Homo sapiens: one gene and its partner. The protein of the gene in region 1 purifies or fractionates together with the protein of each later gene. This does not show direct contact. Each region holds a gene or a part of one and is shown in the gene's direction. Other genes may lie near its edges. The genes, in order: CACNA2D3 and PAGE2B.

Region 1 (2,584 bases):
GAGAAGGAGGCACTGCCAAGCTTGTTTAAGTTGGACTAACTATCCTGATGGATCAGAAGGTCAGAGCAGATATACAGCCTTGGCTCTTTCTTATAGAACTTGGGCTCTGGGAAGTGTGGGACCTCATAAATGACTAGCATTAATCTCATTCAAAACACTGTTCCTGTATACTGGGCAGACGTTGTGCAAAGCAGTATAAGGAAGGCTCTAAGAAGTTCACTATCTCTTTTGCCATTGGTATGACATAGTTTCAGTCTATCGTTGAGGGAAGGAGGAGAGAAAACGCCACTTAGAGGAACATCAAATGTAACTTGGGGTAATGTTTAGGCTCTGGGAGAAGGAAATTAGGCTTTGAAAGTCTGACCTCTTAAACCTTGGGAACAGGTGATTCAGCCAACTCTGACTCTTGTGTTTTGTACATACAGCACTTCAGTCTTTCCAAGGTGAGTTGTATGAGCCGCATGTCGTCATAGCTATTGTTGTTTTCCTAGTGAAGCTAGGTATTTGTAAGTGAAGAGCCTCATGGAGAAAGAAGGTAACATTAGTAGTAAAATAGTCTCCAAAATTTGCTTTACAAAATATGGTAGTTGCTACCACCCAGGAGAGAAGTCTTCCTCATGGCTCTTTAATTGACGGATGGTAAATGACTGCCTCGCTACCTCTTGTTCCAACAGGTCCTTTGTCATCCAGCAAATCCCAAGCAGCAACCTGTTCATGGTGGTGGTGGACAGCAGCTGCCTCTGTGAATCTGTGGCCCCCATCACCATGGCACCCATTGAAATCAGGTATATCCTTTTGTGTGCAGGTCCACTCACTACCACGGAAACCAGTAAGGGGTATCAGTGGTAAGGAAACCTGGGGGAGAAATATTAGAGAAGGAAAATTACATCCTTTCCACTGTTGGAGAGAGAGAGTAGTTAAGAGAGTTGTCATTGCCAAATTTTGACCTCTGAAATGCAGAGTAGAAAAAAGCAATCCTTGGAAACATGCCTTAACTACAGTCAACATAATGAATCCCTTAAGTGTGAACGTCTAAAGGCCCAGAAGATCAGAAGGCGCCCAGAATCTTGTCATGGCTTCCATCCTGAGGTAAGTCTGAGAACTGTTCCTGTTTCCTTTTCCCATCAGAATCACCACGAGAGTCTCACACTGGTCAAAGAACTACAGCTGAAAAGTTCACTCATGAGAAAATAATCCCTTTCATTCAGTAAACTGAATCTGCACCATCATCTAGGTCCCAGAAGACTTCGTTCTTACGTTAGAGAGGGGGAGAGAGGTCTGGGGAAAGTTGAAGGTGTCCTGGAGTCTATTTCCGTCTAACCAACCCCTGCCTTTCCCCATAGGAGAATGCAAGGGAGTGTGGGGGTGCGCCGAGTCTCCAAGCCCAGACAGTCCTCCTTCTGCTCCCTCTGCTTTTGATGCTCTTCTCAAGGTGACACTGACTGAGATGTTCTCTTACTGACTGAGATGTTCTCTTGGCATGCTAAATCATGGATAAACTGTGAACCAAAATATGGTGCAACATACGAGACATGAATATAGTCCAACCATCAGCATCTCATCATGATTTTAAACTGTGCGTGATATAAACTCTTAAAGATATGTTGACAAAAAGTTATCTATCATCTTTTTACTTTGCCAGTCATGCAAATGTGAGTTTGCCACATGATAATCACCCTTCATCAGAAATGGGACCGCAAGTGGTAGGCAGTGTCCCTTCTGCTTGAAACCTATTGAAACCAATTTAAAACTGTGTACTTTTTAAATAAAGTATATTAAAATCATAATCTCCGTGTTTGGATTTTATCATCACTTTATTGCTAAGAACACCAACTGAAAACAATGCATGGGGGAAAAGGTCCCCATTCCAGAAACCAGGAAATGATGGCTGTTGGCAGAGCCTTTGTTCTAAAGCAGATTCTAGGCACATATTTAACAACTGTTTTTAGATGCTTCACTCACTCTCAGTTATAAAAATATTTATAGAAGTATATCAAAATATCATCTACATGGGAAGAGTTTATTACATAGAACCGTGAATTTTGTTGAACTAAACTTCAATGAAAATCATAATTTGGATGCAAACACAAGCTTTCATCATATTCAAGTGGTGAATTATTTGGGAATAGAAATAAAGAAGTCATAAATCCTAGGAATTCGGTCTGAGGAGACTTGAAGGAGGAAAAGAACAATGATTACAAATTTGGCTTCTGGCTTTCCCCATAAACAAGATATGAAATTAGATCTCAAGTATGATGAGATGAAACTACCCAGACATGTAAGCAAGCATTTCTAAACGCTGGCTCTTGACCCAAAGAAAACAGATTTCACTGGATCATGGTTACTAAATAAAGTGAAATAATTTCCATGCCTAGGCAGAGTAGAGAATGCCTTACTTTATAGGACAGACGACATCTAAAAGTTATCCAGAGAATCCTACTTACTTACTTAAACTCTTTTAAAAAGGGGCACATTATCCTCTTGATATTTTAGAAAAACTGATGTCACTGTACTGCTTTATACTAAAATGATTCCACTACATTGTTTGTTGTTTGTTGTTATAACTTTTAAAATTAAATTACTA
Region 2 (3,931 bases), on another chromosome or scaffold:
TTGGCACAAGAGGGAATCTCTTGGTCTGCAGATTGCAAAAACTGTGGGAGAAGCGTAGTATCTGGGCCAGATAGCACAGTACCTGACAGCTTCCCTTGGCTGGGGGATGGAGATTCCTAACTCCTTACACTTCACGGGTAGGCGATGCCCCACCCTGCTTTTGCTCACCCTCCATGGGCTGCACCCACTGCCTAACCAGTCCCAATAAGATGAACTGGGTACCTCAGTTGGAAATGCAGAAAGTGCTTGCCTTCTGTGTTGGTCTCGCTGGGAGTTGCAGACCAAAGCTTTTCCTATTACGCCATCTTGCCAGATCCCCGCAACCATCCCATATGAATTTTAAAGTAGTTTTCTTCTAATTCCGTGAAGAATGTCATTGGTAGTTTAATAGCAACATCACTGAATCTATAAATTTCCCTGGTCAGTTTGGCCATTTTGAAAATATTGCTTCTTCCTGTTCACGAGCATGGAATGTTTTTCCATTTGTGTCATCTCTGATTTCTTTGGGCAGTGTTTTGTAGTTCTCATAGTGGAGATTGTTCTCCTCCCTAGTTAGCTGTATTCCTAGGTATTTTATTCTTTTTGTGGCAATTGTGAATGGGATTGTGTTTCTGATTTGGCTCTGTGCTTGAAGGTAGTTGGTGTACAGAAACACTCCTGGTTTTTGTACATTAATTTTGTATCTTGAAGCTTTCCTGAAGTTGTTTATAAGATCAAGGAGCTTTTGGGCAGAGATTCTGGGATTTTCTAGGTATAGAATCACATGGTTTCCAAACAGATTGTTTGACTTGTGTGAAAAACATAGTGGAGTAGAAGCAAACACGTGTCAGCAATGGAATAGAAAAATAAAAGTGCCCATGAATAAATTTAATTTGAATGTGAAGAACTAATATGAAGCAAATAACACAGTCATTGTGTGGGATATGTTAAAAGACTTGAGGAATTGAGGAGTGGCTTTTTTTTGATAGAGAGATTCTAAAATAGGAAGATGGCTATTGTCCCAGAGTTAACATGTAATATAAAAATAATAACTAGTATCTCAACAGGAATATTTTAGCACCTGATCAAATGATTCTGAAGTTCATCTGAAAGACCAACGTGTCAGAATTGATAGAAAAGGAGAAATCAATGAGGGAGGGCAAGCATTATTTCACATTTCAAATATAATTTAAGCTACAGCAATTAAAATAGTGTAGTAGTGGTACAGGTATAAACAACTCAATGGAAGAAAATTAAAAGAAGAGAGTTACATACAAAATTGAGTGGGGATGTAGGTGATGATAAAAGAGCCATTTCAAAACAGTGGGTGCAACAGGGATTCAACAAATAATGTTGAGTTCCTACCACTTTAATTTTGTCCAGATGGATCAAAGATTTTGAACGTACAATAATGCAACCAAAAACTATGAATGTCTTATATTGGAATGGGTTAGACAATTGCAAGCATGACAGCAAACTCGTGAAGGAGGCAAGAAAATGATTTATGGAAGCGTATATAAAACAGATATTAAAATATTTAAGATTTATTTCTATGATGGTGAAGTTTTCTGAAACACATTATTAGAGTAACCTGGGGCTCATATTCTCCAAAGCCACTGGAAGTGAAAGAAAGGGTGGGCGGGGGAAAAAGAAAAGTGCTTTGCAAGTTCATTTTCGTTGTCAGGAGCGCTGGTGGTTTAGGTTCTCCACAGACGCAGGAAAACATCAGTCACGAGGCGAATGTCCCAGTCAGTGTGCATGCTGCACAGACCTGTTGCTGCACTTGTCTGTTGTTACGCATGTCTGTTGCTACACGTGTCTGTTGTTGCGCATGCGCCTTGCTGCCCGCCTTCTGTCCACACACAGCTCTGCAAGGAGAGTGTCTTCATTCTTTCCGCCATCTTGATTCTTTGTCACTGACCGAGACTCAGCCGGTAGGTCCGCAGAGCGGTCTTCCTGGGAATTTAGTTGTGGGTGAATGTGTGGAGGAGCCAGCTGGCTTTGGACAGGTCCTGCGGCACAGTCCGTGGCTTCCGAGGGAAAAGGGCCTCGCGGTCGTCGTCCGGCCCCTCCCAGGTCGGGATGCCACCGTGGGACTTGTCGTCGTGGCTGGGCTGGGACGAGGGACGAGGGAGGAAGGTGGGCCACAGAGGGGAGGGATCGCGTGAAGATGGGGCGAGTGCTGGGGGTGCTGTTAGAGGTGTCTGAGTCTCGAAAACTCCTGGAACCCTCTGAGAGAGGACAGTTTCCAGACTCCTCGGTAGGGACGCGGGAAGAGACCATGTGGTCAGTAAGGAAGGGGCCTGGGAACTGGGAACGCTGTGGGCCGGTGACTGTGGCCCCGAGGTCTGTAGAGTGCCTGGCAGAGGTGTCCCGTGAGGAGCATAACGTTCACTCTGTTTCACAATTTCTCACCTCCGCCATGGACGCCATGGAAGGAATGGGCGAGGCTGTGCTTTCCAACAAGACTTGATTTTGAGAGAGGTGTGGGGGTGAAATGGGCCTAGCAAATCAGAGTGGGACAAAAGCAGTAGTCATTTCAGTTTCAATTCTCTGCCCTTTTTTCCCCCAAATGTCTTCATGATGGAGAGTCTAATTGTGAAACCAAAACGCAGAAATGTCCTCTGTCTTTTGCTATGGCGTTAAGGGGATTTCTATGCCTCTTCGACTATGATACAAACAAATCTGTCCTTAGTTTGATTGGAAAGCGTGGGTACTTATCAATGCTCTGTGAATTACGTTGAAAATATTTTCAAAATTAAAAAAATACAAATCACCATTTTGCCATGGAATGTTCATATATATAGCTAAGTTCTTATACACTTTTTCCAAATAACAGTATTCTATTTTCAGTGGGAAATATGAGTGAGCATGTGAGAACAAGATCCCAATCCTCAGAAAGAGGAAATGACCAAGAGTCTTCCCAGCCAGTTGGATCTGTGATTGTGAGTCCTTTAACATTTGATGTTTCCTATTAACACAATTTATTTTAAGAAATATTTTTGAGCTAGTGTACACGCACTGATACAGGTGTTCCATGCTGATAAAAAATGATGATGGCATCTCATGAAGGAAACGTTGGTTCAGGAATATTATATTCTGGTGTTACCTGTATGGATATGGATATTTCTCTCTCTCTCTCTCTCTATATATATATATGTGTGTGTGTGTGTATATGTATATATGTATATATGTATGTATGTATGTATATATGTATGTGTATATATGTATGTATATACGTATGTATGTATATATACATATATGTATATACATATATATGTGTTTATATATGTTGGAAAAATGTCTTTAGATGTGTGATTCGATGCACATATGCATTTGTGTATTTATATTATTGACTTTTTATTCACACACACACTTACACCCTTAGGTCCAGGAGCCCACTGAGGAAAAACGTCAAGAAGAGGAACCACCAACTGATAATCAGGGTATTGCACCTAGTGGGGAGATCGAAAATGAAGGAGCACCTGCCGTTCAAGGTGAAGGGAGAGTGGAGAATAATGCTTATGGGTGGTGGAGGTCTATTTATGCATTGTATTTTATGACATACCAGTAACAGGAGGACAGAAAGCATTAGGAAGGAATCTTAAACATTTCCTACTGCTGCTGTGTGGAGGGGTGGGACAAGGACGCATAAAAAGCCACTAAGCTTTCCTACCACTTTGACGGAGGCTTTTTATTGATTGGGTATTTTCATGGTTGCCATAAACCTTTTTCCAGAGCTCCTGTATGCTTTGTTCAGCCATTTTCTGTTTTTTGTTGCTGTGGAAGAATGGCAGCTTGCAGCTTCCTAGTCTGCCATCTGTGGACACGTCATGTATTTTTTAAGAAACTTTTTAACACACCTTTATTGATGCTTCCTCATACCACGTAATATACTAAGTGCTGGAGATGTCAGTGCCAAATTTTTGCCTAAAGCTCATAGTCTAGTCAG

The links.
Region 2: the proteins of CACNA2D3 (region 1) and PAGE2B purify together in Homo sapiens (affinity purification with mass spectrometry; one large-scale study listed by BioGRID and IntAct). This does not show direct contact.

Annotation. Positions count from the first base shown.
Region 1 is NC_000003.12:55,072,771-55,075,354, forward strand, and holds the end of CACNA2D3 (voltage-dependent calcium channel subunit alpha-2/delta-3 precursor), read left to right. Parts: intron 1-674; coding exon 675-787; intron 788-1,006; coding exon 1,007-1,089; intron 1,090-1,343; coding exon 1,344-1,436; 3' UTR 1,437-1,787; downstream 1,788-2,584. UniProt on the Homo sapiens protein: The alpha-2/delta subunit of voltage-dependent calcium channels regulates calcium current density and activation/inactivation kinetics of the calcium channel.
Region 2 is NC_000023.11:55,073,202-55,077,132, forward strand, and holds the start of PAGE2B (putative G antigen family E member 3), read left to right. Parts: upstream 1-1,828; 5' UTR 1,829-1,913; exon of another isoform or gene 1,914-2,055; intron 2,056-2,818; exon of another isoform or gene 2,819-2,832; coding exon of another isoform or gene 2,833-2,840; coding exon 2,841-2,924; intron 2,925-3,367; coding exon 3,368-3,476; intron 3,477-3,931.